3 separate regions of the Homo sapiens genome follow, and regions 2 and 3 are each linked to region 1. The links come from fine-mapping of genetic effects on gene expression. A gene starts in region 1. Each other region holds a variant in brackets. All regions are shown on one strand. Distances are from middle to middle. Region 1 holds the start of MCTP2 (multiple C2 and transmembrane domain containing 2). Region 2 has its middle 62 kb from the start of MCTP2. Region 3 overlaps MCTP2 (multiple C2 and transmembrane domain containing 2).

Region 1 (10,374 bases):
AAAAAAAAAAAAAAAAAAAAGAAAAAAAAGAAAGGATTGAATCATAGGCAACTTTTTATTTTTTTACCAGAAAAAAAAAATGTAATAGGACAAGGCACAGCTCTTCTGAATATCTTCCAAAATGTAATGAACAAACACAGCATCACCTTCAAATCCTCTGTGGCCTGGGGAGGTGCTTGGCCTCTAGAAGAGAGGCCTCTAATAATCAGATCAAATCCCAGCATTCCTAAACAAGGAAACAAGGCCACCTTCCATAATCACCAACATCACTCCCCGCTGGGTAATCCATAGGAGCCCTTAATCATGACGCTATGGGAAATGGTATTTGCATGTGATGTAATCATTTATATGGAATCATGTCTATTCACTCATGAAATTTTAAAAGTCTGCATCAGGAGTAAATGACAATGAAGTTCTTCCTTCCTAGTTTGGAAATTTGTCTCTAATGAAAAATTTCTTAACCACAGTAGTCAGCAAATGACTACGATTGTTAAACAGGCACATCCCAAGCAATCCCAGGCCTGCCTCTTGGCCAATGCCAACACATAACAGTGGCATCGATGAAAACTCTCCCAGGCAAGATAAAAGAGGAAGGTTCTAAAACCAGACAGCCTGTGCTTGAATCCCGGCTGAACCACTTTCCAGCTGTGTGACTACGGACAATTTCCTATTTCTCTTTCAGTTTTCTCACATTTAAATCCAGTTGATCATAGCCCTGCGTTACCCAGGGTTTGTACCGAAGATTAAGAGTTAATATTTCTTAGCAAAATGCCTGGCACAACCTGAGAGCTCAATAAATGTTAGTGATAGTAATACAAATTATCATATTACAACACTAATATATTACTATTATTATTAATTTCAGTTCCCTCCCAGTGATCTCCATAAGGGATTCCATGCCCTATCTGTTCTCTTAAATATTAAGACCAGTGGTTTTCAGATTTTAGCATGCACCAGAATCATCCGGAGGGCTTCTTAAAGCACAGATTACTGTGCTCTAGACGCAGAGCTCCTAATGCGGGGTGCCTGAGAACGTGCATTTCTAACAAGTTAATCTCAGGTACGTAGGTGCTGCCGGACTCGAAGAACATCAGTGGAGGAGAATGAATGAGTCTAAACCACCAGGGATTTTTTTTTTTTTTTGAGACGGAGTTTCGCTCTTGTCTCCCAGGCTGGAATGCAATGGTGCAATCTTGGCTCACTGCTGCAACCTCCGCCTCCCAAGTTCAAGCCATTCTCCTACCTCAGCCTCCCAATTACCTAGGATTATAGGCACTGCCACCACACCGGACTAATTTTTGTACTTTTAGTAGAGATGGGATTTCGCCATATTGGCCAGGCCGGTCTCGAACTCCTGACCTCAGGTGATCCACCCAACTCGGCCTCCCAAAGTGCTGGGATTACAGGCGTGAGCCACTGTGCCCGACCACCACCAGGGCTTTTAATGGCTCTCTGCTCACTTAGAATGACCCTCCTGGACTCCATCAGAGTAACTCCAAACTCAGCTCAAGCCATCAGGAACCCTCCAAGGCCCCTGTGGCATCTCTATGCAAGCCTATAACAAAGCACTGTGATCAATGAAATCAGCTCCATGAGACTGGGAGTTCTTGACAATCAGGACTTCGCCTTACTCAGGACTTGGGACATTAGAAAACTCCCAATAAATGGTGACTGATAGTTGGAAAAGCCAATGGCCAAAGGCATCCCTGAGAAACAAACCAACCTGGAAAGTCTTGAAGACCAGCTCTCAGAATTGTTCGTTGGACATGAGTGTCCAGAGTGTCTCTGCTGTCCCATCCAGCAGTCTCTTCTCTGCTCAGTGGAGCATGAGTCCTTTGCCTTTAACCACAACTTTCCCTCTCACTCTTTGAGGGTAACAGAGCTTCAACTTTGGGCTTCTCACTAGCAGGGCCCCCCGTGGGTGTGACAAGCTGCTGGGAAATGCTGAGTGTTCTCAGGGAGAGGGGAAGCCGGATTGCAATCAGCACTCCTGTTTTTGTAAGCATTTCTGGTAAATTGCCCAAGATCTCCACAGAAACAGGCAGAAATCTCCAGTAAATTATCATCTCTTTTTCTCATTTTAAATACATATTCACTTTCACACCTAATTTTGTATTAATTTTCTTAAAGAGAGTCTCCAAATTGTTTACCTTTTAGGCCTCACAAAACTTGGAACTGCCCCTGCTTCATATCCCCTACATACTCTCCTCCTTCATCACCCACCCTGGTTCCCCATGAGAACACCTTACCAGGTCAGGCACACTTTTATAAACACCTTCTAGGAAGGACTTAACAGCTCAGCTCCTAAAGAGGAGTTTAAGGTGTCTGGCTGTTTCACCTCCACGTGAAGATAGAGGGAAAAAAAAAATCTGTGCCAAGATTGACGCAGGCAAAATATTCTACCTGATCCTCGCTTCACGGGCAAAGCCTTTTCTCAACAGTTAACTGGCAACAATTCAAGGTAATTTAAATATAAAACCCCTTCCATTTCTGTGTGTAATTACCAACAATTACAAGAAAAGTTTTAAGAAAGCAAGTGTTTTCCACAACAAGAAATATTATTTGAATTCAGAGTACTATTTTTCACTCACTTTCCATTCTCCACAGTATAATAATTTTAATTTGAAAATTACTTTCCTGGTTTACATGCACTTAAAGAAATTGTCAGTTGTTATAAATCCTTTATGCAAAAGTCAAATAAGGAACTTGATTCCTCGCCAGATCATCACATTGCAGTACTCTACAATTTCCAGAAGTAGTACTTCTGGAAATAGGTTTAAGGAAAAATATATATTCGTGTGTGAGCACAGGTTTACACAAACACAAAGTCCTTTCCAGGTGACAAGAGACCGCTAATCATCTTGCAGCTGTAAGAAATCAAGCTGAAATTGATTTCAAAGCCCACTCAGCTGAGAAACTCACCTCTGCAGGAGGAGACCATAGTAAAGCACACCAATAATAGGAAATTAGCTGTTCCTTCCATGTATAACACAGAGAGAATATATATGCAATTTTATTAATTGGCCCTGTTTGGATATATCAGGCCTTTCAAAATATGTTAAGAGACATAATAAATTTTATCTTTTAACATATTTTGAAAGGCCTTTCAAAATATGTTAAGACACATAATAAATTTTATCTTTTAAAGCTACATCTACTAGTCACAGATAGGTCACAGCTTGACCACACAAGTGCAATGAAAACAGTGCTCACTTCATTCCTGAGGACTACTTTAACTCCATTAATCCCCAGGAGATAGGATCTATGAATATAAATTTGAATTCTTATATTAAATCTGCCGGATTTACACTCTCCATCTTAGAGACAGCATGGAATAGTGAAAAAGTACGAGTTCTGCACTCAGAAATAGCCACATGCAATTTCTAAATTCACCACTGACCTTGTACAAATTACTGGACTCCTCTCTGCCTCAGTTCCTTATCTGCACAGGGGAATAGTATCTACTTTGTAGATTTCATAGACAAGACAAAGTGCCTAGCATGGTGCTTGGCACAGAGCTAATTCTTAATAATCTTATTTTAAGCATGGTTTTGACAATTTTTATTGCTTTGGAATGACTGATCAGGCTAATGACAGAGACTCTTCAAAGATTTACATTCTCCCTGCATTTAAATACTTATAACCAGCGATTACACAGGTGCTGCTGAGGCAAAGCGCAGCACCATTGGTCTCGTTCTAAACACCCACCTGTGAGGAATAAGTGCCTTAAGATTCCCCTTTGTATTAATATCAACACCTGTGCTACCCAACAGCACACCAGCCCGGCTCTCAGAGGTCTGCCCGTTAACAGGTGTACAATAAATATTTGTTGAATTGAAATGCTACTGACTCAAGCAAAAAATGAATGCTAATGTAAATTATAATCCATACAAATCCTTCAATAAGTGGTGTCTGAATTCTGTGCGTCCTGAAGCAAGTGTTCTAACGTCTCACGGTTCACTGAGAAGCTGCTTGGTACCTTAAGGGTTCGCACCCTTGTACCTTCCAGACCAAGCTCTTGTAAGCATCTAGAGGAGGCTGAAACCCTCAGTCAGCATCGCACAGAAGTTCATTCAGACTAGAGAAAACCTCTTTTATGGCAACCCAATCATTTAAAAAAAGCCGTCAGCACATTTGCTTAACAAATGGACAGTGCAGGAGGGAACTAATTGCGGAAACTAATCGCCACTCAAGTTCACCACCAACATCACTGTCTTTATTTTTAACTTACTTATCTTCAGTGGGATTGAGACACTGTTTGTTACCTACGCAATTATCCCAAGGATTTCTGCTCCGGTGTCGTTGAGCAAATGTCAGCGCAAAGAATTAAAGTTGAACCTCCGGGTCTCTACGAAGAGAGCGTATTAAAGCCCACCCAGCTGAGGAACTGACCTCTGTGGAAGGAGTCCTGGATGTGGCGGTGACTACCTCCGTAGCGCCCCGGGGAGACTGAATGTGTGGCCTTTAAAATGCAAAGAAATTCTGGGCCAGGCTGCCCTCCCCTAGTGCGCCTTCCAGTACGCCACGCCTGGATTTCTGCCTCCAGTCCTCAGGACACCTTTCTGATCTCTGAACCACAAGCAGCTCCGGGGTAGTAGCGCCACTGAATTCTCATCCTGGACCCTCCAGCTCCCCAACTCCCAGCTTCGGTTGAGAGAAGACGCCCACCCCCAGGCGGCGACCGTGCTGCCCGGCCCACGCGCGCTGCCAGGTGAACCCGGCACCGCCCTCACCTGTGCGAGGCCGCGTTCGGGGGCTGCAAAGCTGGGCAGGCGCGCGCCCCTCACCTGCACCGGACCCGCTGCAGTCGCCACTCGGAAGCGCAGGGAGCAACCCTGACGCGGCGGGGGCGGGGGCATCACCGAGGGCCCCCGGACTTCCTCGGGCCCCCCCACCGCCCTTGCGAGCCCCGCCTAAAGGGGAGGAGGCGGCCGCGCGTCACCTTTGAGCAGCCTCCGACCCAAGCGCCCGCGCTGCCGCCGGGAGCTCGGCCGGGTGTTGCAAGGAGGCGCTATGCTTGGTGCTGGGCACTGGCTGGGCGTAGAGAAGGCGATTACTTGTAACTCATTCGTTTGGGTTGGCTCACAGGAAAAGGAAGGTGTGTCCAAAAAGTCCGAAGTGAGGAAATAGGACGAGGATGGCTTGCAAACTCGTAAAGTCTTAATAAGCTGTCTTCGCTGATACTCAGAAGGGTTCTCTTCGCTCCTGTAGGTCCCTAATAGATTCATGGGAAGACAGCAGCCTCCCTTTGTAACGCCCTGACCCTGGGAAGAGGTACCCGAGCCAGACAGCCTATTAACCTATGCCACGTGTGCGCGACTGTGGGTGGAAGATGCCCGCCCAGATCCACAGAACTGTTTCCTGAGCCTTGGTGCCTCATCTATGAGATAAGGCCGGCGTACTGCTCAGCAAGCCGTCCCGAGTACTCGGCAGAGAACCCTAAAGACCCTCCCGTGCGATTGTTGGCACTCAGCGAATATTTGCTATTTATTTCCCCTTTCCCTTACTTTCTTTTTCTACTTTTTTTTACGCCGCTTTCCTGCTGTAATTGTCTTATTGCACTTTGTTTGCTCGGTTTCACTGCCTGGTCAGTTTCTTTTCCCGTCTATGAACGAGCCTAAGTCTGTGCGCTCTAGGAATTTGGGTGGATTAGGAAAAGAAATGTATGATCCATGCCTTCTGGGAGATCAGGGACTCATCTCTGGGAAATAGCATTTTTAAATTAGATACAAGAGAGTTACAGAAAATAACCTTAAAACGGGAATGGGACCTCTGGGAATAGGCGAGCTCTGAAATGAAGCGTTTAGTTGGTGTCACTGGTGATTAAGAGCTCCGGCTTTGGAGTCAGACCTCAAATCAAATTCTGCCTGGGCAACTAATTGTGTAAATGGACGAGTTCACTTAACCTCTCTAAATTTTAACTTCAACAAACTGGTTGTTTAAATAGCTTAAAATAGCTTAAATAGCTTAAAATAATAGCTATCTCATACTTTCTGAGAAATTAATTAGGTAATTCACATAAAATCCTCATTACAGTGTCCTGGGCCATGGTAACCACTTAATAAAAGTTAGCTATTAACAATACTAAGGTAGGAAATGGGAGGAAGGGGCATAAAAATTTAGAAAACATGAGGACGTGATAGAAAACAGCTGCCACTGTCATGCAATTCCGACTTACAACAATAGCTACCACTGAGGAACACAACTTCGCACCAGTTTCTGTGATTGGCATGTAACACGTGATCATATTGAATTTTCACAAACCAGGAGACAGTTAATAAAATCTCTGATTCAAGATGAGGAAAATGAGCATCAGAACCATGAAATAACCTGCCTGAAGCTATGAGTCAAGTTAGTAGCCGAGTCAGAGCAAGCTGAGGCCTATGGCAAAATTGGCTTTTCCCACCGTGCCGAAGGTTACATCCCCTAGCAGAGAACAGAGAGAGGTAAGGGTAAAACAGCATGAAAGGAAGAAGAGAAAGAGCAGTAGGCAGACGAAGCAATCATACCTTTAAAGCTGACTAAGAATACAAATGAATTAAAATAGTAAGTGAACCCACACAAAAGCTTTTTTGCCTTTAACTCCTGCCCCAGTGGAGTTCCTGTTCTGTGGTTCCGGCAGTCCAACCGCATTTTTCAATCATTAAATGGTATAGAAAGTGAAACAACTAAAGATACAGAAATCTAAGGTCACAACTTGCCCTTCCCACCACAATACACTCATCTGCCCAGCTTCCTGGGTTTTTTGTTTTTAATTGTTCAAACATATTACCTGTCTCCTTTTCTATGTTCCACCCAGGAAATGTCCCTTCCAGGGAATAATATTGTTGCTTATACCAATTTAACTTTACTACATAACCACACCAGCATTTAGAATGGCAACTGGACTCATACATGTAGCTGATAAATTTTTAACACACTTTTGTTATATTGAATTTCTCTAAACAGATTTTGAACCAGGTCTTACATTATAGGCACTGGTCAGTGATGTCATAATTATACTTAAAAAAAAATAAAATCTCCTGCACGTATCATAGGCAGCTTTCTCTCTCTTCTGAGCAACCAGATATTTGGCCTCTGAAGAAATGCCCCTATTGTCAATGTGATAATTGAGGTGGAGATTTCCCACTTTCAGATACAATTGCTTTTATATCTTAGACAATGTATGTTTGGTTGCATGACAATCTAATATTGGCACCTCTTCTTTTAAATTGTAAATGGAAGATGTGTCTTCTGAAGGCCCAGTGTACTCCTTGGCTATCATGGCTATACTGCCTGTCATACATGCAGAAGCACGGTTAAGTGCATACAAAGGCTAGATAACAATTAGTGCAGTTATCTAGCCACGTCCCTGTGCCTTTTTGAATGAGCCAGAGTATTTCAAATGAAACAAATGAAAATTGCTGTAGCCACCCAGAGTCTTTGACAATGAGGGTTAAAGCAGTCTTCTCTAAAGAAGACAAGACCCTGTCTGTAAATGCATAGGATCTAGAGTTCCATATCTTCTCTGCTCAGTGGGAGCCTCCTTGGGTCATCCTATCAGAGTTGGCCATGCAGTCAACACAGTCTGGCTCCATTTGGAGGACACAGAGCTAATCTTGCTGGGACAAGTCCCTTTATGTCAAAGAGAAAGCTGTCTGAGATCTGCTAGCAGTAATGTAAGGGCTTGGCACCTAGCTTCCCTCACATTTTCCTTCGTTGGTGCTTCTCATCATTTCTGGGCCGATAAGAGCAGAAGTAGAAAAATGACTGAGACATAAACATGTCAATTTAGATCTACCAGGGGTTAAAACGAATATAATGGTTAAAGCAAACTTCAGTCTATTGTCCAAGTAACAAATGTTTATTTTAGTGTGTGCTTTAAGGAAGAATATGCACTCTGTTACGTGGCGTTGAGAAATGGTACTTCTTTTATTGTTAGTGCAAATAGTCTTTGTTATTATATGTACTCAGGATTTTTTTTCCTTTGGTATAATTATCATGTTATCCCCTTTTTATAGGCAGGTGTGGAGAGACCAAATTTAGTGACTCACTCCAGACCTAGCTCTGCCACTTACTAGTTACGAGTTTATCCTGTAGGCTTCACTTTCTTGAACAAAAGAATGGACCTAACAGAAAATGAGTCCTATTCTCTAATTATTCAGAAAGACTTCTTATAAAATCTCTTTGGAAATCAACATCAGCATTGAATTGTCCTAATGATGATTCTATGTATCAAGTTCTTTTCTTTCAAATACCTAAACATGTATTTAACACAAGCTGATTAGCTGGAAATGTTCACAGGTAGTAAGTTGTTCAAAGATCGACTTTTATGGATGTTGTACCTTTATTGGGTGGGAACTTTTATGGCCAAAATGAACATCTGGTAGTGGTTGCTTCTGAAAAGTTAAAATTATTAGAGGCTTGGAGTTAACTCTTAAGAGACTGAGTCTGCCATTCATTAGATGGGTAAAGAAGAACCAAATTTACTTCTTCAGATGAAGGTTAACTTTGCCCAAGATTACTATCTCAGTACCAACATTTTTGTCTGACGATCTGAATTTCATTCAGTTAATTGCTTAAAACTTCCCCTAGGCCAGGGGAGAGGTTCATACTGTAGAGAATTTCTGTGGCCCCAAATCACATTTATTGAATTGTTCTCTAGTGTGTTGTCATTGGCAATAGTGGGGGGTATCTTAAGAATCTACCTTGGGAAATACGTTGTTGAACATACATTTGGCATGTTGGTCGGGGTCATTGTTTTTTAAAATTACACTGCCTGTTTTAAGATGATCCAAGGTAGAAGTTATCACTCATCTCAGATACAAAAATCTTGAGCTTTTCCACAACAAATGGTTTGTTTGCATCTTATGGGTTCTGCAAATAACACAGTTGAATTTGTTTTCCTCTCTAATTGAGCCACTAGAATGCACAGAGTGGCTCACCTCTGGCAAGTATTCAGAAATGCTTATTTGTGCATTGCACATTACAGTTATCTGTTTTTCTACCTGTATTTTCCAAAATGAGAGATGAAACTAGGGGAATTTTCAGGACAAGAATATTTAGATAACAATCAATTCTCCATGCAAAATAAGAAGTACATTCATTGATGTATTCATTCACATAATTAGCATGTATTCATCATCTACAACCAGGACCACAAACTAGGGTGCCTACATGGGTGAGACTGGTGAAATAGAGATTGACTGTGGTCACATATAAGAAGATAGAGACTGTGGCAAATAGCAGAGAGTAGGCCCACCTAAAGACATTCAAATTTACTTATTGTTAACCCTGTGCTGGCTAAAAAATACAGGTGGCCGAAAGCCTGGCAACCAGTTTGAATCCCCTGATCCATATATTAAGCTCTGTGATAAACTCTGTGGATATAACACAAATATGATAGCTTCTGCCCTCCAATGGCTCACATTTTCGCTAGATGTGTAAACAGATAAACACAATAGAGTGTCAGAGTGAAGAGGCCTTGATAGTAGCACCTGCAGAGCCCAGCAAGTGGTGTAAAAAACCAGGTAGAAAATACACCAGAGAATCAGCAGAAACCGGGACCCCAGTCAGTCCCAAGTGATGAAAAAAGGGAGTCTTCATGGGTGAAACCTGGCTTACACAATTGAGATAAGTACAGACTCAACTGGCAGACAAAGATCAGTTCAATAAATGAAGCCAGCCATCTAGCAGTATTTCCATAATCTTAATCAGAAAATCAAAATATAGACAAATGTGGAGAAATAATAACTATGTCTATGGCTGAGGACATTAACAAATTTTGGACTTGACGTCTCCAGTCTGTCTTTGTGACTGGTTGGGATGTATAATTTGCATAAGTTTTCATTCATCCAGTCTCCCATTACTGCCTCTAATGATAACCTACAAAGAAAGTACAACATCACTAATTAATGGATTGAAAAGTAGTCAGGAAATAGACAAGGTCTTATTAAGTGCATAAGGACATTTGCAAACCAACCTGGTAGGCACCTGCCTGCTTTACTGATTTTTTTTTAGGCACGTCTTTGTAGTGACAATTGTTGCCACTTCCTGAAAAAATCCAAAGTAGAAAATAAGACAGTAAGTAATCTGACCTTAAGACTAAGTTAATTTCTTAATTTCTTAATTTCCAGTATGTGCTAAAGTTTTTCATTTTTCCTACTGAGAAATACCCAACTATAATGAAAAATTACACATTCTCTAAAGGGCTTGTTCTTTTAAAAAGTAAACTTTGATTAGGTTGAACTTCTATTCAGCTGACTTTAAAATGGAGAAGAATAAGGAAAACCTAATTCAGTCAGCACAAAAATATATTTTAGATATTTTAAAGGGAAAGGAGTAGCTTCATTTGTTAATATCAGACATCTTCTCAGTTGTAGTTTAGAACTTTCT
Region 2 (10,374 bases), 61 kb after region 1:
TGGAGGATGCAGTGAGCTGAGCTCGAACCACTGTACTCCCGCCTGGGCACAACAGAGCGAGACTCCATCTCAAAACAAAACAAAGAAACAAAAAACAGGACCACCAAAGGCTGAAATACTCATGTATGACATTTTGGGTCACCCCACTGATTAAGCACTCCAACTGCTGAAGTGCTGGCAGGAGGCAAAGTAGCCATGGAGTGAGCCATAGAGTCATTAAGCCATCAGTATCATGCACAGGCATGGGACCTGTGCAAAGAAGATGACTAAAGCCATTACTCAGAATTTCCTTCCTTTTTGTGGCATGTAAATATTTTAACTAACTTCCCTATTTGTGTGGCTTTCCACAAAGATTGCATATGCATTGGTATCATCTAACTTTGTAATTATTTTGTGGTTTGAAATAGAATTGCCACAAAACTGAAAAAAGAAATAGATGTTAGTCAGAGGTCTTAGGGTTGAAACTTGAAGAAAGTGGAGAGAGTATAGTGGCTTCCTTTTGGAAGTGGAATATGTTCAGTAGAATAAGGGTAAGCTTGTTTATCTTTGGTAGGAGCTTTTTATTGTGTGTTATGTTTTGTTTATGTCTAGACAATGGTGGGGTATGGTGTGGTGGGTATGCATGTTTTATTCTAGCAACTCATGATCATAAGAGCCTTACTTTTTGAAGGAATTCCTGCATTGTGTGTCCTGGTGGGACACTGTGACTTGGGTGTCTCCCAAAGCAGGAGAGCAGGTACTCTTGAAAGTCATGGTGTGGAGGAGTGGGAAGGTGATGAAGGTTTGGCTGGTAAGACATGCACAGCCAAGCTTTTGAATCTTGGGGAGCGGTTGACAGATTCACAGCTTAAAGTTGTCACCAGCAGTAGCCTAAAGACACCAGTGTTATCAGCTTTAGTGTCCAGTGGCAATAGTACCAGTGCCCATGACTTAACCTCAGTTCATCCTGTGGTTTGAACTTGCCTGTGTTTTTGGATCCCAGTCTTTGTTGGTTTAGCTCTGATTATCTGGTCTTCTGTGAATTTTGAGAGTTAACCCAAGACCCTCCAAATACATTCCTTTTTGCTTGAGTTAACCAAATTCTTTTGCTGTGGTTTGCAGTATTACATTCTGATTAATAAACTCTATTTCTATGTTCATTCTCTCATTTTTCCCTCCTAATTTTCCAAGGCTAATTCTGCCTTTTCTGAAATGTTCCCACTTTGGGTATCGTTTTTCCCGTAAATATCTGCAGTACAGAACACCACTAACCAACACCCACTACCAGCACTTTTTTCTGCCCTCTGCTACAGGGCATTCTCCTGGCCCACCAGCTCTTTATTCTCTTACGCCTCCATCTTTTTTTTTTTTTTTTTTTTTTTTTTGGAGACGGAGTCTCGCTCTGTCTCCCAGGCTGGAGCGCAGTGGCGTGATCTCGGCTCACTGCAAGCTCTGCCCCCTGGGTTCATGCCATTCTCCTGCCACCACGCCTGGCTAATTTTTTGTATTTTTAGTAGAGACGGGGTTTCACCGTGTTAGTCAGGATGGTCTCCATCTCTGGGCCTCATCATCCACCCGCCTCGACCTCCCAAAGTGCTGGGATTACAGGCGTGAGCCACCGCGCCCGGCCACGCCTCCATCTTATTCCTCTTTCCTGTTTACATCCCTCTCTGGGTTTCTTCTTCCTTATTCACAAACTTCCTTTTTCACTAAACTGTAACACCTAATGCGCCAAATACAATGACTTTGACTAACTGTAGCTATACCCCAAGAACGACTGCTCTTCTCTCTCTTAAAGCACTCTATCTAACATAATTTATCATCTTAACAATTTTAAATTGTGCAATTTGGTAGTGTTAACTGTATTCGCATAGCTGTGCAATAGTTGTCCAGAAATTTTAATTGTGCACTGAAACTTTAGACTCATTGAACAAAACCTCCCTGCTTTCTGCCCCCTAGCAACCACAATTTTACTTTCTATGAGTTTGGCTTTTCATATACCTCATATAAGTAGAATCACACATTATTTGTCTTTTTGTGACTGGTTTATTTCACTTAGCGTAATGTCCTCAAGGGTCAACCATGTTGTAACATGTGACAAGTTTCTCTTCCTTTTTAAGGCTGAATTATATTCCATTGTATGTAAAGAACGCATTTTCTTTATTTATCCATCCATGAACATTTTGGTTGCTTCCAAATGTTGACTGTTGTGAATGGTGCTGCTATGAACGTAGGTGTGCAAAGATCTCTTGAAGTTCCTGCTCTTAATTTTTCAGACATATATTCAGAAATGGCATTACTGGATCATATGGTAATTCTATTCTTATGTTTTTGAGGACACTTCATACTGTTTTCTGCAGTAGGTGCATCATTTTACACTCCCACTAAGGAGTGTCCAAGGTCTCCAATTTCTTTGCATCCTTGCCAGTACTTGTTTTCTGCTTTTGTTTTTGTTTTTTAAATCATAGTCATCCTAATGGGTGTGAGATGGTATCTCACTGTGGTTTTGATTTGCATTTCTCTGTTGTTTAGTGATATTAAACATCTTTTCATGTGTTTATTGGCCAACTGGAGAAGTGTCTAGCTGAGTTCTTTGCCCATTTTTGAACTGGGTTATTTGTTTTTAATTGTTGAGTTCTAAGAAGTCTACCTATATTCTGGATACGAACTTATGAGATAGATGATTTGCAGATATTTTCTCCCATTCCGTAGGTTGCCTTTTCACTGTTGACTTTTTCGATGCCAAATAGTTTGTAGCTTTTATATAGTCTCATCTGTAGCTTTTATATAGTCTCATTTGTCTGTTTTGTTTTTGTTTCCTGTACTTTTGGTGTCGTATTCAAGAAATGAATGCCAATTCCAATGTCATGCAGCCTTTCCCCTATGTTTTCTTTGCGGAGTTTTAAAGTTTTAAATCTTACATTTAGGCCTTTGATTCACTTTGAGTTAGCTTTAGTATATTGTTTAAGGTAAGAATCCAATTTCATTCTTTTGAATGTGGATATCTAGTTTTCCCAATACCATTTATTCAGGAAGCTCTCCTTTCCCTATTGTGTGACTGTGACTCCCTTGTTGAAAATAATTTTACCATGTAAGCAAGAGTTTATTTCTGGGCTGCCTATTCTGTTTTATTGGTCTATATGTTTCTCTTTATGCTATTACCATGCTGTTTTGATTACTGTAGATTTGTATTATGTTTTGAATTCAGGAAGTATGAGAACTCCAACTTTGGTCTTCTTTTTAAAGATTGTTTTGACTATTCAGAGTCTTCTGAGATTCCCTATCAATTTCAGGATGGGTTTTGTCTATTTCTACAAAAATTGCCATTGAGATTTTGATAGGGATTGCAATGAATCTATAGATTTTTTGGGTACTATGAATATCGTTATAGAATTAAGTTTTTCCAATCATGAGCATAGGATGTCTTTCCATTTATTTTTATCTTCTTTGATTTTTTCAATAACGTTTTATAATTTTCAGTGTACAAGATTTTTGCCTCCTTATGTTTATCTGTTAATTCCAATATTTCTAGCATAAAGAAAAGATAAATATTTATGGTGATGGATATCCTAATTACCCTAGGATTATATGAATGTATCAAATTATCACAGGTGCCCCCAAAATATGTACATCTGTTATGTATCACTAAAAAATAAAATGAAATAAATTAAAAAAATGAAAAACAAAACCTTATTCCTAAGTATTTTATTCTTCTTTTTTTACATATTTATAATACTTTCAGCTCTTAAAAAATGTTCCCCGGTTTATTAAGTTATAACTGACAAAGAAAAATTTGTGTACTTGTGGTGTGCACTGTGATGTTATGGTATATTTGTACATTATTAAATGATTAAATCATACTAATTAACTATAATCTCACAGGCATATATATTTTTGTGGTAAGAACAGGTAAGATTTAAACTCTTAGCAATTCAAGTATTTATTAGGTTGATGCAAAAGTAATTGTGGTTTTTGCAAATACTTTTTTTTTTTTTTTGATGGAGTCTCGCTCTGTTGCCGGGCTGGAGTGCAGTGGTGCATTGGCAAAAAACACAATGACTTTTGCACCAACTTAATAATACATTATTATTAACTATAGTGGCCATGCTTTACAATAGAACACTCCATCCTTCAGCAGCAGGATACTATTCTTTTCAAGTACACATGGAACATTCTCCAGGATAGACCATATGTTAGGACACAAAATAAGTTTTAACAAATTCAAGAAGGTTGAAATCATACCAGGTTATCTTTTCCAATCACAGTGATATAAAACTATAAACCAATCACAGGAAGAAAATGGGAAAACACACAAATAGGTAGAAATTAAACAACATACTTCTGAGCAACCAAAGGGTCAAAGAAGAAATCAAAAGGAAAATTAAAAAATATCTTGAGACAATTGAAAATGGAAACACAACTTAGGGGATGCAGCAAAAGTAGACCTAAGAGGGAAGTTCATAGTGGTAAGCACCTTCATTATTCTACATTATCCTTTTTGATGGTATTGTAAAAGGGATTGTTGATTTTATTTCCTTCTGGGGTTTTCTGTTGTTAGTGTAGAGAAACACACTGAGTTTTGAGTGTTGGTTTTGTATCCTGCGACATTACTGGATTCATTTATTCTAAAATTGTTTTTGTGGACCAAACTTTTACCTTCTTCAATGAACCTTCTGCCCTTTATCCTCAGGTTCTGATTTATTCTTTGCTTTCTTGTTTACTATTTTTGAATCTAACAATGACTTGACAATTGAGTTAAAATCAGGAAACTGGAGTTGGTGATTGTTTGAAGGAAAGTTTATAGAGATTCATCTTCCTAGAAACATGTCCCTAAGAGCCTTTCCTTCCCTGAGTATTTTGTAATTGGCCCTCCTGATGGGGAGGATGAAAGACAGAAACATAAGGAAAGGAATAGAATAAGGGTTGTGAACAATTCTAGGGGAAAAGGACTATTAAAAAAATACATATAGGGCTGGGTGCAGTGGCTCATGCCTGTAATCCCAGAACTTTGAGAGGCCAACGTGGGTGGATCTGTTGAGGTCAGGACTTTGAGGCTAGTCTGGCCAACATGGTGAAATCTTGTCTCTACTACAAATACAAAAATTAGCCAGGCGTGGTGGTGCACACTTGTAGTCCCAGCTACTCAGGAGGCTGAGGCAGGAGAATTGCTTGAACTTGGGAGGCGGAGGTGGCAGTGAGCCCAGAT[C/T]GCACCACTCCAGCCTGGGTGACAGAGCAAGACTCTGTCTAAAAATCAAAAAGAAAACAATTGGGTAATTAGGCTAGGGGATGCTTTTGAAAGCATAGTCTCAGTTGTGACCTAACGGACTCAATGACTTTGTTCACTAACACATTCTGCCTTTCATAGCCTCATCCCAGTGCTTCCTTCTGAGTTACTAAAAGTGATTATTTGTAACTCTATTTTAAAATAAGATTTCATTGATTTAAGCATTGAACTAATTATCCTTAAATAATATATCTGTTGGACAGGCAGGTAGAGGAGAGTTCTCATTATTCCTGGTCATCACCATGCTTCCATCCTATTCTATGCCTTTATTACAACACTGCCCTATCTAGGATGAAATTTATCTTCCTGACCATGAAAATTTCTCCTGAGACTGATGTGATTGCTGAAGACATGCTTGCTGACCACGACCTATGGAGAGTTTTTTAAAAATAGTTTAATGTATTTTAATAGCAAACTTACAGAAACAACACAGAAGAAAGACAACATTAAAAAACACGTACTGCATGTAGGACAATTCAGTGAGAAAAGTCTAGTGAATGGATGGTATCTGTCATTTGATAAAAATGCTACAAACACCATTTAGTTGCTGTCAATAAAACATTTACTTATTTTTTTTTAAAAAATCCAAATGCTAGCATTGTTCAGAAAAAAAATAACAGGTTTCTTAATTGTTATAAAGTTTAACCACTGAGACTTCTTCACTGAAAGGTTTGACTTGCATTAATGCTTCATGTAGGGACATAAATGCAGGGCATTTATACTAACAGTTCACACACAAACGAACACAGAAAAAAAGTGTCAATATCTGGTTTCTGTCCTCTGTTTTTTCACTGGCAATCATATACTTAGTTACCTTTTGACCCCATGGAAAAAAAAATATCTAACATTCAGAACCACCAATAACAAGAAGAAGAGAATTTTTCTCAGAATGAAATGTTCCCATCATAGAGGATTCTTAAGGACCTTCTCTACGTATGAGATGTGCTAGCTGGACGACTTTTGGCATAATTGTTACACATTTGGCATGGATAGTGCACAAGTTGGTGTCTTCAAAAAGGCCAACCAGATAGCCCTCACTCACTTGCCTCCTGCAAAGCACCAATAGCTGCGCTCTAAAAGCGCAGATGTTTTCAAGTCCTGAGCAATTACGTGCATCAGATGCTGGAAGGAAAGTTTGCAAATCAGAAGTTTGGAGGACTTCTGATAAGGTCTGATATCATGGAGTGTCACAGTAACCAGGCCTGTAATTATGAGTTTTCTTCACCCTTCCAGGAGAGGGCGCACTACTGCAAGCAGCTTCCACAGCCGGTTGCTTCCTGGGGGCTTTGCCACTGGTTGATCTGTGGGCAGTCGGCTTTGTACCAGCCACGGTCTTAAAAACCTCCTTACTTATCCCCTTCTCCTTCAGCTGGGGCTCAGCGAGCTACAGGTGGTGCTGGCATTAGAGATTTTATGATTGAGGTGTACTGTTTTGAAAATAGAATCTCAGGTTTGCTTTGTCAGATAGGCCATATCTATTTAATCTGGTTGTAGAATCCATACCCATTCTCCAACATAGTTTAGAACTAGTTATTAACAGAGGTACGCAGGTAAAAAGATCTTTCTGTCAGTACCCTTAAGAGGAAACGTGTACACACACACACGCACACGCGCGCGCGCACACACACACACACACACACACACACACACGATACAGTTTAGTTCATGGAGGCCTGCGCTGGCCACCTCCTGTCTTATTGCCTTTGGTAATGCAATCATAACATCTAAACTTAGCTACTGCACTGATTTATGTATTGTAGATATGGTTCTTCTTGATGGCGAGCAAGCAGGGGCCCTGGCTTGATTAAGAGGAAAGCAGAGGCCTTACCTATCTCTTTCACCGCTCTGCCTCCCAAAGCCTAGCACAGGGCCTGGTAAAACTTTAGTAATATTCATAGACTCAGAATGACAACGTGAATAATGACTCTAAGAATTCAGACCATAGGTTTAGAACCAAGGCTGTGAGTTTAAGAGTTTTACCGTCTTCGAATAAAACTTCCTCTCCAATCCTGTGAGTGTTGAAATCATACCCCTTTTTAAAGCCTTGGGGGAAAAAAAAAGAGAGAAAGCCCTTATGTGTATACCACTCCAAATGAGCAGGAAACAGCATAATTATTTAATGTGTGTATTAGCCTGTTCTCACACTGCTAATAAAGACATACCTGAGACTGGGTAATTTATAAAGGAAGGAGGTTTAATGGAGTCAGTGCCACATGGCTGGGGAGGCCTCACAATCATGAGAGAAGGTAGAGGAGGAGCAAAGTCAGATCTTACATGGTGGCAAGCAAAAAAAGAGAGCATGTGCATGGGAACTCCCCTGTATAAAACCATCAGATCTCGTGAGACTTATTCACTATCACGAGAACAGCACAGGAAAGACCCACCCCCCCCCATTATTCAATCACCTCCCACAACAAGTGGGAATTATGGGAGCTAAAATTCAAGATGAGATTTGGGTGGGGACACAGCCAAACCATATCAGTGTGCTCAAAGTAATAACATTTCTTCAGGAACTAGCCAGGAACTTTGAAAAGCAACAGATTTTCTTCACTCTACAGCTGCATGACTATGTGCAAAGTACAAAATGGAAAATCATGAAACCCCAAAGAAGAACTTGACGTCAGGGCAGATCTGAATTCAAATCCCTGCTCTTCCCCCTGGATTCATCATGTCTTTTTCCAGCCTTCCTTTTCTCATCTGTAGAATGGATGTGCTAATGTACTCACTTTTTAGAGTTGTGAGATAATTAAGCACTTAACATAATACATGTTAAGTGTATTAATATGTGTGTGGCACATAGTGAAAGTCCAATGTATGTTCGTTTTTTGTCAATTTTTAGTTCATAATTTGGAAATTAGCCATGACAATGATATTTCTGGTTGTTTTAAGGCATGAAATAAACATGTAAAATATCTTTTTGGGCTATTGCATTGATATTGGTCACAAGATGGATTGATGTAGATCACAAGACCAAACTGGGTTAAAAAAAAAATCTAATATGAGCCTGCTTTTTGTTTGTAAGTATATGGAAGAAATAGTGCCCAGAATAAAATCGGAACAAGGTGGAGGAAGGATTCATTCACACAAAACATTGCAACATTATTTAAAGTGAATCTCGGAGGCAGTGGGTTTTTTTTTTTATTTTAGTATTTTTGTGTGGGTGTGAGACGGGGTATCGCTCTGTTGCCCAGGCTGGAGTGCAGTGGCACTATCTTGGCTCACTGCAACCTCCACCTCCTGGGTTCAAGCAATTCTCCTGCCTCAGCCTCCCGAGTAGTTGGGATAACAGGCACGTCCCACCACACCAGCTAATTTTTGTATTTTTAGTAGAGACGGGGTTTCACTATGTTGGCCAGGCTGGTCTCGAACTCCTGACCTCAGGGGATGCGCCCACCTCAACCTCCCAAAGTCCTACTGAAAGGCGAAGACAGCTGGACCTCCTGGATCCAGTGGGGACTTGGGGAACTTTTCTGTCTTACAAGAGGTTTATAAATTCACCAATCAGTGCTCTGCAAAAATGCACCAACCAGCACTCTGTAGCTAGCTAGAGGTTTGTAAAATGGACCAATTGGCACTTTGTAAAATGGACCAATCAGCGCTCTGTAAAATGGACCAATCAGCAGGACATGGGGGGAGGACAAATAAGGGAATAAAAGCTGGCCACCCCAACCAGCAGCGGCAACGTGGTAGGGTCCTCTTCCTTGCTGGGGAAGCTTTATTCTTTCACTCTTCATAATAAATCTTACTGCTGCTCACTCTTTGGGTCCCTGCCACGTTGAAGAGCTGTAACACTCACCAGCAAGGTTCGCGGTTTCATTCTTGAAGTCAGTAAGACCACGAACCTACTGGAAGGAACCAAATCCGGACACACTGGGATTACAGGCATGGAGGAACCAACTCCGGACACAACGGGATTACAGGCGTGAGCCACGCCAGGACGAGGCAGTGGTTCTTACACTGTAGTATGCGTTGACTAAATAAATGGTCTCTTAAAATACAGATTGCTACCCTGCCCCCCCCCCCGCCCCCCAGCCACCACTCCCAAACTCCCCAGCCATTTCTGCATTTATGGTTTTGGGTGAGTCCTAAAAATTTGCCTTTACCATAAAAGGTTGATATGGCTGGCCTTGGGACCACATTTTGTAAATCACTGCAATGGCAGTAATTCTAAGCCTTGGTTGCGTCTTGAAAGCTGGAGAACTTTCAAAGATGCTCATGCCTGGGCTACATCCACAGAAGTTCTGGTTTCATTGGTCTGGGGTGGGGTCTGTTTATGAGGAGTTTCAAGAGCTTTCCGGGTGACCTAAATGTGTACAAGTTAAAGATAACTTACCTAGGATATATCAGAAGTAGTGTATTTTAGAAAAGAGCCATTCGATTATGAATTTAATAAATATGAATTGAGTACCTACCATCATTCCAGCCCTGTGCTATGTAATGGGAAAACAGATATAAATAAGAACGAAAGAGGAAGATTGCCACATTGATAGCTGCTAGAGTGACAGCCTGCCAATGAGCTTGTGCACAGAAGGCTGCTAAGATGGTTGGGATGTATGTGGAAGGCTGTGAAGTTCAAGTGAGAGAAGGTTTCACTAAGGAACTTGAACTGAGTTTTGAGGGATGAGTGAGCATGATGTTTTATGAGCAGAGAATAGGGGAAGGACATTTCAGAGAGAAGGCAGCCATAAGTGAAGGCCCGGAGTTGGGAATGGACACAGTATGTGTTCACGGGCTGCAGCCTGGTGTAGTGGTGCAGAACAGGGTAGGAGAAACAGGCTAAGATAGATTTCCATGCTTAGACTTATCCTATGGGATTTGACGGGGTATTTGAGGGTTTTAGGAGGAAAGTGATAGAAATAGATTTCATCAAGTACATCAAGAGGTAGGAAGATCTACCTGAGAAACATTCTCCAGATAAATGGGCACATAGAATAATCAGGACACCAGCTTCCCCCCGCCTTTAGCTAATCCGTCAACGTCTGATTAGAAGTGCAAGGAAAAGGGGGACGCATTTCTTTTCACTGCAAGTAGAGCTGTTTCAGACTTTGGGAATCTTGGGAGAAAAAGAGTAAATGCGGAGAGAGAAGACATCAGAGAGGAGAAGAAGGAGA
Region 3 (10,374 bases), 250 kb before region 1:
AGATGGGCCTGTCCTTGGGCCCTAGGACAGTGTATGCTGGCACTGTGCTAGCAGACCCAAGCCAGCCAATTCTTGGGCCTCCAGGCAGCTTGTTTGGGTGATGATAGTGGCAGTCGTGGGCTGGTGGTAAGTGTGTCCTTGGGCACTTGGGCAGTTGGCATGGCATGGGTGAAGCAGTAGTAGTGGTAGGACTAACCTCTGAGTCCCAAGAGCTCCACAGTGGTGTTGGCAGTGGTTGTGACAGGCTGGGCAGGCCAGTCCCCAGGCCCACAGGTGACACGTGTATGTGTGTGTGTGTGTGTGTGTGTGCTCATTGTGATGGTAGTGGCAGGTTGGGTGGCCCCAACTTCAGGGCCCTTGTTGGAGTGCTCAGGTGCCAATATTGGTGGACTGGGCTGAGTACTCCCCAGGCCTCCAGATGCCATGATTTGATACTAGGGGGTGGGGGTCAGAGCTAGGTCCAGTGGACTCATCCTCACATCCTTCAGTAGTGCTTGCAGACACTGACTATGGAAGGCAGGGGCGGTGTGACCCCAGGCCCCAGAATGTTCATGTTGGGGTGGCAGCAGCTGTACTGCACCCCTGGTACAGGGGAGAATAGAGTCACTTTCAATGGCAGCAGTGGCACACAAGTGCCTGGGAAGTGTACATTTCACTTGCCTTTGGCCCCAGTTGAGGCAGCCCACTGCTATGGCTGTCACCTGGTGGATTTGTTGTCCTTAGGGTGATTAAAAGCTGCACAGCAGCTTCACAGTTGGGAGCAGTGTGGTAGCTGCCAACAGCTCACACTTAAGCCCTACAGGTAGCAGGCAGCTGGAGTTGTGGCTGCAGGTGAAGCATGTCATTGGGGTTCCAGGGATATGAAGATGCAGGGGCTGTAGGGCCCAGGACAGAATGCAGTCTGGTGAGGGCTGAGATATCCAAGTGACAACTTGCTGTAGCTGCTTAGGACTTGGGGGTGTGTGGGATTATGTGTGCTCCCTCTCTGGGGCAGTATCGTCACACGGTCTTCAGGTAGCTCCCTATGTTGGTCTGGGGGCTCACAATAGTCTAGGGGCATTCCTATGGCTGGAATGTGGGAGTCTGTAGTGGGAACGTTGATCACTAGGAGTCACCCACTTACTCTTTTCTCATACTGGGAAGCCTTTCCTGGCTCCTAGCCTATCCCACCTGAACAGACTGTATTGCTTTCTTTCCCTTCCTTGCTTTAGGTGTTTCCTGTCACTTATCTGTAGAATTCCAGCATTCTCTCTTATATATGTGAACTGTGATTATCTACTCATTATTGTCTGGTCAAGTATCTGGAAGCCTCACTGATGTTTTCAGTGTAAAGACTTCTGTATATCTTTCACAATTTTGTATCTTCATAAGGGATTTTCTTAAGTAGTTTTCCATTCTGGTAGAACTTAGTTGGTTTTGAAGGAGAGTTATGTTGGCCTCATAAAATGCTTAAGAAAGTGGTTTTTTTTCTTTTGTTATTGTCTAGAAGAGTTTGTATAAGAGCGACAGGTTTTTTTTTTTTCCTATAAGTATTTGGAGAAATTTCAGTTTTTAGAATTATTTTGAATGAGCAATTATATCTAAAACACTTAGAAAGTAACTGGCATTTGATAAATGCCATAAAATATTAGTATTCTTGTGTGCTTGAATATCCATTTTCCTGTGTAAATCATTACATAAATGCTAGGACAGAACAGCTGTGGGCTTTACACAGAGGTAACATGCTTGAAGCCATTCCTTTAGAAGTCACCCTTCAGGATTTCAGCATTTATTCAATTATCAGTTACTACTCAATGCATTTTCAGGCAATTTTTATTTTAATTTTTCAACTGTTCCGTTGTCACAAGATTCCTAATACATAAATGAGAGGCAGGTTTTGATAGAACATAGTTTTTTTTAAAGTTCAGGGGTAACTGTGCAGGTTTGTTACATAGGTAAACTGTGTCAGAGAGGCTTGTCATACAGATTATTTCATCGCCCATGTATTAAGCCTGGTACTCATTATTTTTCCTGATCCTCTTCCTCCTTTCACCCTTCACCCTCCAATAGCCCCCAGTGTATTTTGTTCCCTTCTACATGTCCATGTGTTCTCATCATTTAACTCCTACCTATAAATGAGAACATGTGGTATTTGGTTTTCTGTTGCTGCATTAGTTTGCTAAGGATAATGGCCTCCAGCTGTATCCAAGTTCCTGCAAAAGGACATGATCTCATTCTTTTTTATGGCTGCATAGTATTCCATGGTGTACCTCTACCACATTTTCTTTATCCATTCTATCAATGATGGGCATTTAGACTGATCCAGTGTCTTTGCTATTGTAAATAGTGTTGCAGTGAACATGTGTGTGCATGTGTTTTTATAGTAGAACAATTTATATTCCTTTGGGTACATACCCAGTTATGGGATTGCTGGGTCAAATGGTATTTCTGTCTTTAGGTTTTTGAGGAAACACCCACCCTGTCTTCCACAGCGGTTGAACTAATTTACACTCCAACCAACAATGTATAAGTGCAGAACATAGTTTTCAATAATGAATATGGCTAACTCCATCTCAAGCCCATGAAGAATTTTTTGCAGCTAATAGGGTTACACTGAGGTCATGACACCTCTGTTTTCTTACTAAAATAATCCCAAATATCTCCTTTCATTCCAAATTCCAGCCCTCTCTCTCTCCTTTCTTCTCCACAGTGGAATTTTTCAAGGGTTACCTCCATTCAGAGGCCCCATATTTTCACATCCACTCACTTCTCAACCCAGCGTGGTTTCCATTTCTACCATTCCACTGAAATGGCTTGTTGCCAGGGTGCTTCCAAACTGTCAAACCATTAAGGTCATGATTCTGTACTTATGTGATCTCAGCGGCATTTGATATTATTGACCACATCAGCTTTCTTGCAGTATGCTCTGCCACTGAATTCTAGGACAGTCCATGCTTACTGTTTTTCTCCTCTGTATTTACCCGTTTCTATTTACACTCTTAACTGACTTGCCTTTCTATATATGACATTAACTGTTGAGTTCTTCAAGGTTTAATTTCTTGAAGCATGTAGTTTTGATCACTTTTCATATACAATGTTTGCCTTTAACTTGTGTACATCTCAAGTACAGTGTGTTACTTCTCTGAGAACTATATATTCCATTACCTTGCTGACATTCCTATTTGGATGCTTTTCAGTCACCTGAGATTCAGCGCTAAAACTGGACTCCTGTGGTCCTCTCACAGCAGTTCTTACAGTTCTCTCCCTTAGTGAAAGGTAACACCATCTTCCTAGACCTGGAGACCTAGGGACTGAGAGCCATCCTTGACTCTACGCTCCCTCATCCCATAGTCCAGCAATTGTTAAGTCCTGCTCACTTTATCTCTTCACCATCTCTCAATTCTACTTACTTTTTTCCCAGTGCCACTATTTGAAAGTCCAGGGTGTTATTCATTTATCAGGAGTACTACAAAGGGCTAATATTAATAACTTCTCTAAACTTTGAAAATTGCTAGGCTATCCATTGCAGCTAGAATATTTTTCAAACTTAAATCTGAGCATGGCATGCTGTTGCTTGAAAGTATCTGTTTAATGTCTGGCTTTACCAAGGGAATGTAGTCTGTTTTGTTCCAGAAAATTATCGGCATTCAATATAGACTTGTTAAATGATAATTTACAAGTAAAGAAAAAAGAATCCAGAAGATTGTTTTACCACCTAGAAATAAACATTATATTTTCCTCTGATATGTAGGTAAGAACTTCAAATATAAGACATAATTTAAAAGTTTATAATTGACATAGTCAGGGATTATAAATAATATCACACAAAATAAGCTCTTAATGCAAGAAATGAATCTCCAGGATAGATCATACTAATCTATCCAATCCAGCCCTCTGTTCTGAAAGCAGCACATGAAAAGGCAGAGAAAGAAAAATAATCTCTACGACCTGGCCTGTTAAACATGTATTTATTTCCTGAGTAACTATTAGGTGCTAGCTGTAATGGGCTATTCAGTGGAGGACAGTGGTCAAAGCCTCTTATGATGTATGGCAGATGCCAGAAAGATATGAAAGATGTGATGGTACAAAAAAGGAAGTTGGAGTCACATCCAGCCACAGGACTAACTAAGCCTCTTTGGGGCAGGAGACTTTGGAAGTGTTGAAGGAGAGTAGAATCTATTCAGAAAGAAACAACTGGGGGCAGGTCCTTCCAGTCTGAATGAAGATTAACTAGGCATAATGTAACTGGCATCATGGCCGTGACGTCTGAGAGGTTATGAAGGCCTCCACTTGGGTGGTGGAAATCAGAACAGAAGTGGTTAATGCATTGACACTGGACCTACTAGGCTTTAGGGGTTGGGAGACGAGGACAACAGCACGAGGAACAAAAAAAAAGAGGATGACCGAGAAATTCCAAGCCCAGAAAATGCCAGTCCTGGTAAGGGAAATAAGGAAGCTGGAAGGAGATTATGAGGGTTGGGGTTCTGAAGACAGGGAGAGACAGATGATGTTTAGTTTCTGACTTGCTGAGGTGTAGATGCCTGTAAGATAGAGAGACAGGGCTAGAAATGGGAAGATAAAGTTTGAGAAGGGAACCAGGAAAACTTGGCAAGACTTCAACATCCCTACTTAATTATCACACTGTGAATCCACAATCGATAAATTTTATCAAAAGCATTCTGGAATCTTTCCTAAAAGTTTTTGACAATTGTATAAATCTTAACATGTCACTTACAACTAACATTCCTTTCTAACAAACATCCAATGTCTACTTAATCAACTAACAATTGTTTTCTATATACAGTTTATTCAAGGTTGATTCGGTCCTGCTCTTACGTCCCAGCTGGTGTTTGGGTCCTAAACTTAACACTGAGAATTTCAATCGGGCTACAGAGGAAACAAGTCTAACTAATGATGCCTTCTTGTCGGGCAAATAATTTCATTTTGAAATTCTATAGCAAAAGAACAACAATAAAGTATTGGTTCCACTTTTAAATAAATAAGGGGTTATTTTGCTGCTGAAAGTTTTCATTCAAATGACTGATCAGATCTCACATGTCTGTTTAAAAATGTCTGACTTAGGTCGTTACAAAATGACAGACTATGATAAACTAGATGATAGTTAGAAGCAAGACAATGAGGCATTGTTTACACAGAAGATTGAGTAACTGGTTTAACAAAAGAGGTTCTTGGGTATCTATTGTATGTACAACTACGAGATTTACTGGAGCTTTTATAATTTCTGCAAGGCTCTTTTCCAGCCAGCTTCATTAACTTGAAGTAAATCAAATCATGCAGAATTCTGGCTCAGCCAGAAAGCAACCCAGTGAGATACAACATGAAGAAAAACAGACACGGGATGATAAGATTTAGAATCTTTGGCATTTTTCGTAAACATTTTGTTTGAAGATTATTAAATTACAACCCAGAGACAAAAAAAAAAAAATAGTGAACTCACTATTAAATGAGAT[C/G]TTTTTAACCTTAACTTTTTTTATAATACATACATACATAAAAACTGCACAAAGTATGTGTCAACAAAATACAGTCTTTAAAACTTAAATATCATTTAAACAGACTTAATTGCATACATTTTATATACGCACAAAGTCAGGATTTTTACATGGCAGGGAAATACTGTGGAATGATGAGGTCTGCAGGAGACAGATGCTATCAAATGAGGACTCTGGGGTGGTATTTTCTAGAAATGGGGTTCTGAAATAAATTTTTATTGTATGTAGCTTATTTTACTTCTAAGAGGAACAAAAGATACATTTGGGCAGCCAAAGTATTTCTACTTCCTGCTTAAAACATTCAGGCAAATGAAATGATTATAATAATTAGGTAAGCAGCCTTATTAGTCTCTCGGTCTTCAGTTTCTTATCTTTCTAAATACCTAGAGAATTTATTCATTCATTTCTCCCCTACCCCCACCTGCCTTTCTGAAATTATATGTTGACATTTTATAATATTTTGAAAATAAGCAAAAAGTAAAGTGAGAAGAAGTGGCATCAGAAGGCAACCAAATACTTTCATGGGACCCTCATTTTTCAAGTGAGTGATCTCTAGGGACCTTCCTGGGCCATCCATTGCCAGCAATGGACCCTGCTGTAGGCTGGCATCCAGCACCGAGAGGTTTCCCAAAAATTCACATACATATCCTTAATAATCATGGCTGAAAGATCCCTAAAGGTTTGAGCTAATTCTGGTAATTATTAAAAATGCCTTTTAATAATATACAATATTTGGACAGAGGATGACTACCAAAGACTTGTTAACTCTGAGAAGAGACTTACGCCCATGAACGATAATCTGAAAGGAGTGTGGGGCTGGGGAGCGGAAATAACTGAATCTTAATGAGAGTCTGTTGGAGGTGTGAAAACAAGTTCAAAGTCACTCTTGAATCCAAGTGGGCTCCTGGCTGTTCTCAAGGAAGGTGGTGTTCAGATCCATGGCAGCCTTGTTATCTCCTATTTCAGAATGGATGTTAGTCTTTCACAGTCTTGGGGTTGTTGCTTTTCGCTGGGCTGACCCTCTACGCAACTAGGACACCCATGCATGAGGGTGTGTGCACATGTGTGTATGTCTGTGCACGTGAAGGAGGAGGAAGTATACAGAGGGTGCCACAGGGCATGCATTTCAGAAGGACACCTTGGGTACCACTGAAACAGCCATAACATTGGTCTACTCAACCAAACACAATATTGGGTGCTGCTGTCCAAAGTCGGTGTGTGCCCTAGAGAGCGCTGCGCTTCTTCCGCAGGGGGCTGTGGCTGCTGCAGAGTTTCAATTCTGCATACTGCACCTGTGAAAACAAATAGCCGTGATGCTGGCGGTTAGGTAACCCTAGCTCGCCACAGTGTGTGCTAATGGCTCCCCAAGGACAACCGAAGGCAAAGGAAGGAAGGTTCAAAGGTAATGAATCATTTTCTAAACACAGGAACATGGAGGGATTAATTGCAGGAAGGATTTGAGAAGTCATGCATCATTTCTTGAAACCAAAATATTAAAAGCAGATTTTTCTAATGAGATGCGTGGGTTTCTACCTTCGCTGGGCACTGCTAGATGATGTTCGTTTTGTGTGTGCCAGTTTTCAACCATAAGTAAGCTTAATAACTGCCTCTTGGGAATGTTTATCTTAGTATATGATACAGCAACTTACTGAGGATTATTCGTTTAAAAATATCTAAAATCTTGGGGAAAACATCTCGGAAAATTATACACATTTACTTTGCCTGAGAGGAAAAAATGCTGAAATTGATACTGGACCCCAGACTTTTATATAGATTTCTCGTGGAAATTAATTTCATTTGCAATGTAATGACTAAAACATCTGTGATAAATATGAGTACTTGGGAGTCCCCAGTGGCAAACTGTCACTGTGTTATTAGAAAGCGCCCTTGGCGATACACGGAGGATCTTACTAGCATACTGTACATCTTCCTGGAATGTTCTTTTGCTGCATCTCTCTGTGTTCATGCCATCTCCAACTGGAATGGCCACTTTGAGGGCTAGTGACTGGACTCTGCACAGAGAATCCTTGGGGGCTTGAGGGAAATTTCTGTTCTTCAAGGATACAGTGTGAACTCACACTGCGACCCAAGTGATGGTACGTTGCAAATATATTGCTTTGGTGTGTGGGCTTTGATAGGCTGCTGGTGGAATGGCTTTATTTAAAACATTGTATTACAGACCACATGTGCTCCCTATTTTTAGCATTTGTGACAAATTCCCCAAGGACATTATGCCTGATCACAGAAGTCAGGCTGTACTTTGTCAGAGGCAGATAAATGAAGAAAACACCCCATTCCTTATGGTGTTTTGCGAAGGTGCCCTAAGGGAGCAGAGGATGACATACCTGTCAATCTTCAATGCAAAACAAACAGGGGCCGGGTTATTATTTTTTAATTAAGTAATACAAATGTTAAAGAGTAAATTCATCTTTCTAGAATGTGTTTTCACAGCTAATTATGAAATGAATTTTAAAGGAAGATAGCATCACAGAGTCCATTTTAATTTCTAGAACTCGGAATGAAGGGGAAAGAAACTCTAAGGCTTTTCCGCCCCAGATCTTTGAAATCCTCCCTGAGCTGCCAGGGAACCAATTATGCTACAGTGGCTCAAATATGAAAATCGATATTTGATTTGGGATTCTCTGAGATATTAAAGGATTGTGTCTTTGATCATCTTGATGATATTTCACGCCATGGTCTCCCCATCTACCTATTCAGTGATCTCTGTTCTCCATTAGAGAAACTGCCGCCTGCCCTCCTTCCTCTGGATTTATAGCAGGCTGATCCACAGGGGCCAGGATCGAGCTACTCTACACGACTTTCTAGTATTGTTGCCTTCGTTAATCTCTGTGTATCCACAGAAACAGGACACTGCTGGACTAGGTGACCATTATCTGTGAATAATACTTCTGATTGATCTCACATTATTTCACACTGCCTCTGCCTCTTTGTGTATTACAGTAAATGGGGGCTGCATTCTCAGCATCCCTAAGTCTTCAGAGGGAAGACGATAGAAGGGAGGCCTAGGAGATAAATCAGGGCAAATGAGAATAAAAAGAATAATCCTTTTGTCCCCTACTTCCCCTAAAATGCTTGCCACCCGGAAGAAGAAAATAAGCAACACTCCCTGGGTTTGGATCTCATGCAATTCTACTCACTGAGCCCATCTTATCCTCTTTAGGGAGGCAAGCAATCGAAAGGGGACAAGCATCAGTGCCCAGTAGCCACACAGTGTGAGTTCCAGATCATACTTAAGTAGCTCTTTTTCAAAACAATTTCCCCCAATCACCTCATGCTTTGGACAAAGATTTTTCTGCCACTTCTCTGCAAGCCAGGCCTCTTTAAGGATTTTCTGGTTCCTTATCTCAATTACTCACACAAGCAAAGCCTTGTGTTCCTCTGGCTCCGGGGCTGGCCAGATTTCAGGTTGGGGCCACTGTTGGTGGTAACCATTCATTACATACCTTTTGAACATCAGACGGTACCCTAGAGAGGAAGTCTAGTAGCTCATTATTGTCGATGGAATAGGGATTTCGAAGCTTCTTAGTAAATTTATTTATGCCTGAAAAATAGAAACACAGGAGATCTCTTTATCTGTCTGTCTGTCTATCTATCTATCTATCTATCTATCTATCTATCTATCTATCTATCTGTCAGTCAATCATCTATCTATCTAGCATCTATCTTCAAAAACTCGCCTGACTCGGGGGAGAGGGGATATTCACAAGTAAAAATTAGTGTGAAAACAATTACCAGACCTCAAGTCAAGCACATGTTGCTGTCATGTAGAATCATTCACAAATGCCTTTTCCTGAAGGCAGGAAGCAGGGGCTGGTGAAGAGGGGCTCTGCCTTCTTCAGCTGTGAAAATCCCATTACAATCCCAGCAGCAGGGCGACAGAAACACACGCTCAAACTGGGGAGCACGTTGGCTTTTTTGGAATACGCTGATTAACAGCCGCCTCTGCTATGAAAACAAATGTCCCAGATGGGAAAAGGCCTTCATTAGCCCAAACAAGTCCCTGCTTGGAGGCTCTGGACCAAACGTAGCAGTGGGAGGTAGAGGGCGGGAGTTGTTTTCTTGTTGTTACAAAGAAAACCGCAGTCATCTGTCTTTCCCCACCTCCAACTCATTTTCACAGGTTTCTCTCCTCTCACAGCAGAACAGAACCTGACATGTTGATTGTACTTTGATGCTGCAGGAAACTGTGAAAAGTTATTATTGGCAAATTATCTTACTATGGTTGCTAACTTAATTTATGGATCACAACGTCGGTGCGTGGGTCTGTCTGGGCAATGGAGAACATGCTAATTTAGGACAAGGACAAGGATAATTAGAAACGGGTTGAACGTTTAAGATGTCAACATCCTATAGACCGTCCCTCTTTGGTGGCTGCACCTTGGGTTCCCGTGCATATCCAGGACACGCTCTGCCCCTGGTTTACTCTTTAGAGGGGAGTTCCTCTCAACCACGTTTTGTCTTCTACTCTGCTCTTTGGAGCTGCTTTGACTATATCCGGAGCTCATAAGCTGTAGTCTTTTCACCAAATGTCAACCCGTTTTTCATGTTGAGTTTTAGAAGCAGAAAGACTAGGTGGCCTTCTGAAGTTTTGCCACAGGGTGCTTGTTTAACAAGGATCATATCTGAAGGGCTGTCAGTCCCAATGACGCTGAATGAATTCTTAGCTTCGTTGTACTCTGAATGGCTCCTACTCAGAAGTCAAGGTAACATTTAACTGTTCAGTAGTCCCCAACACACAAAGGGTTTGATTTTTTTGTTGTTGTTCATTAAGTATTATTTTGCTTTCATCTGAGGACTAGGCTTCCTGCATGGCATTATACCTGACACAATGCCAACCTCCAGTTATTTCTTTGGAGGGTCAGAT

Evidence for each region. PIP is the estimated chance that this variant, and not a neighbour inherited with it, causes the effect.
Region 2: its variant is fine-mapped to the expression of MCTP2 in whole blood (TOPMed, PIP above 0.99).
Region 3: its variant is fine-mapped to the expression of MCTP2 in lung (TOPMed, PIP 0.91).

Annotation. Positions count from the first base shown.
Region 1 is chr15:94,226,024-94,236,397 of GRCh38, reverse strand. MCTP2 (multiple C2 and transmembrane domain containing 2) reads right to left here and starts at 4,837. Exons shown (of 23, transcript NM_001385001.1): 1 at 4,734-4,837. RefSeq lists a silencer at 4,778-4,907 and an enhancer at 6,443-6,582.
Region 2 is chr15:94,164,566-94,174,939 of GRCh38, reverse strand. It overlaps the pseudogene H3P40. Among named protein-coding and RNA genes, the nearest start is that of MCTP2, 62 kb to the left of the region's middle. The variant C/T (reference allele first, on the strand shown) is at 5,186.
Region 3 is chr15:94,475,373-94,485,746 of GRCh38, reverse strand. MCTP2 (multiple C2 and transmembrane domain containing 2) reads right to left here. Exons shown (of 23, transcript NM_001385001.1): 22 at 8,954-9,051; 23 at 1,795-6,781. The coding sequence ends at 6,713. Among named protein-coding and RNA genes, the nearest start is that of LINC02852, 110 kb to the left of the region's middle. The variant C/G (reference allele first, on the strand shown) is at 5,451.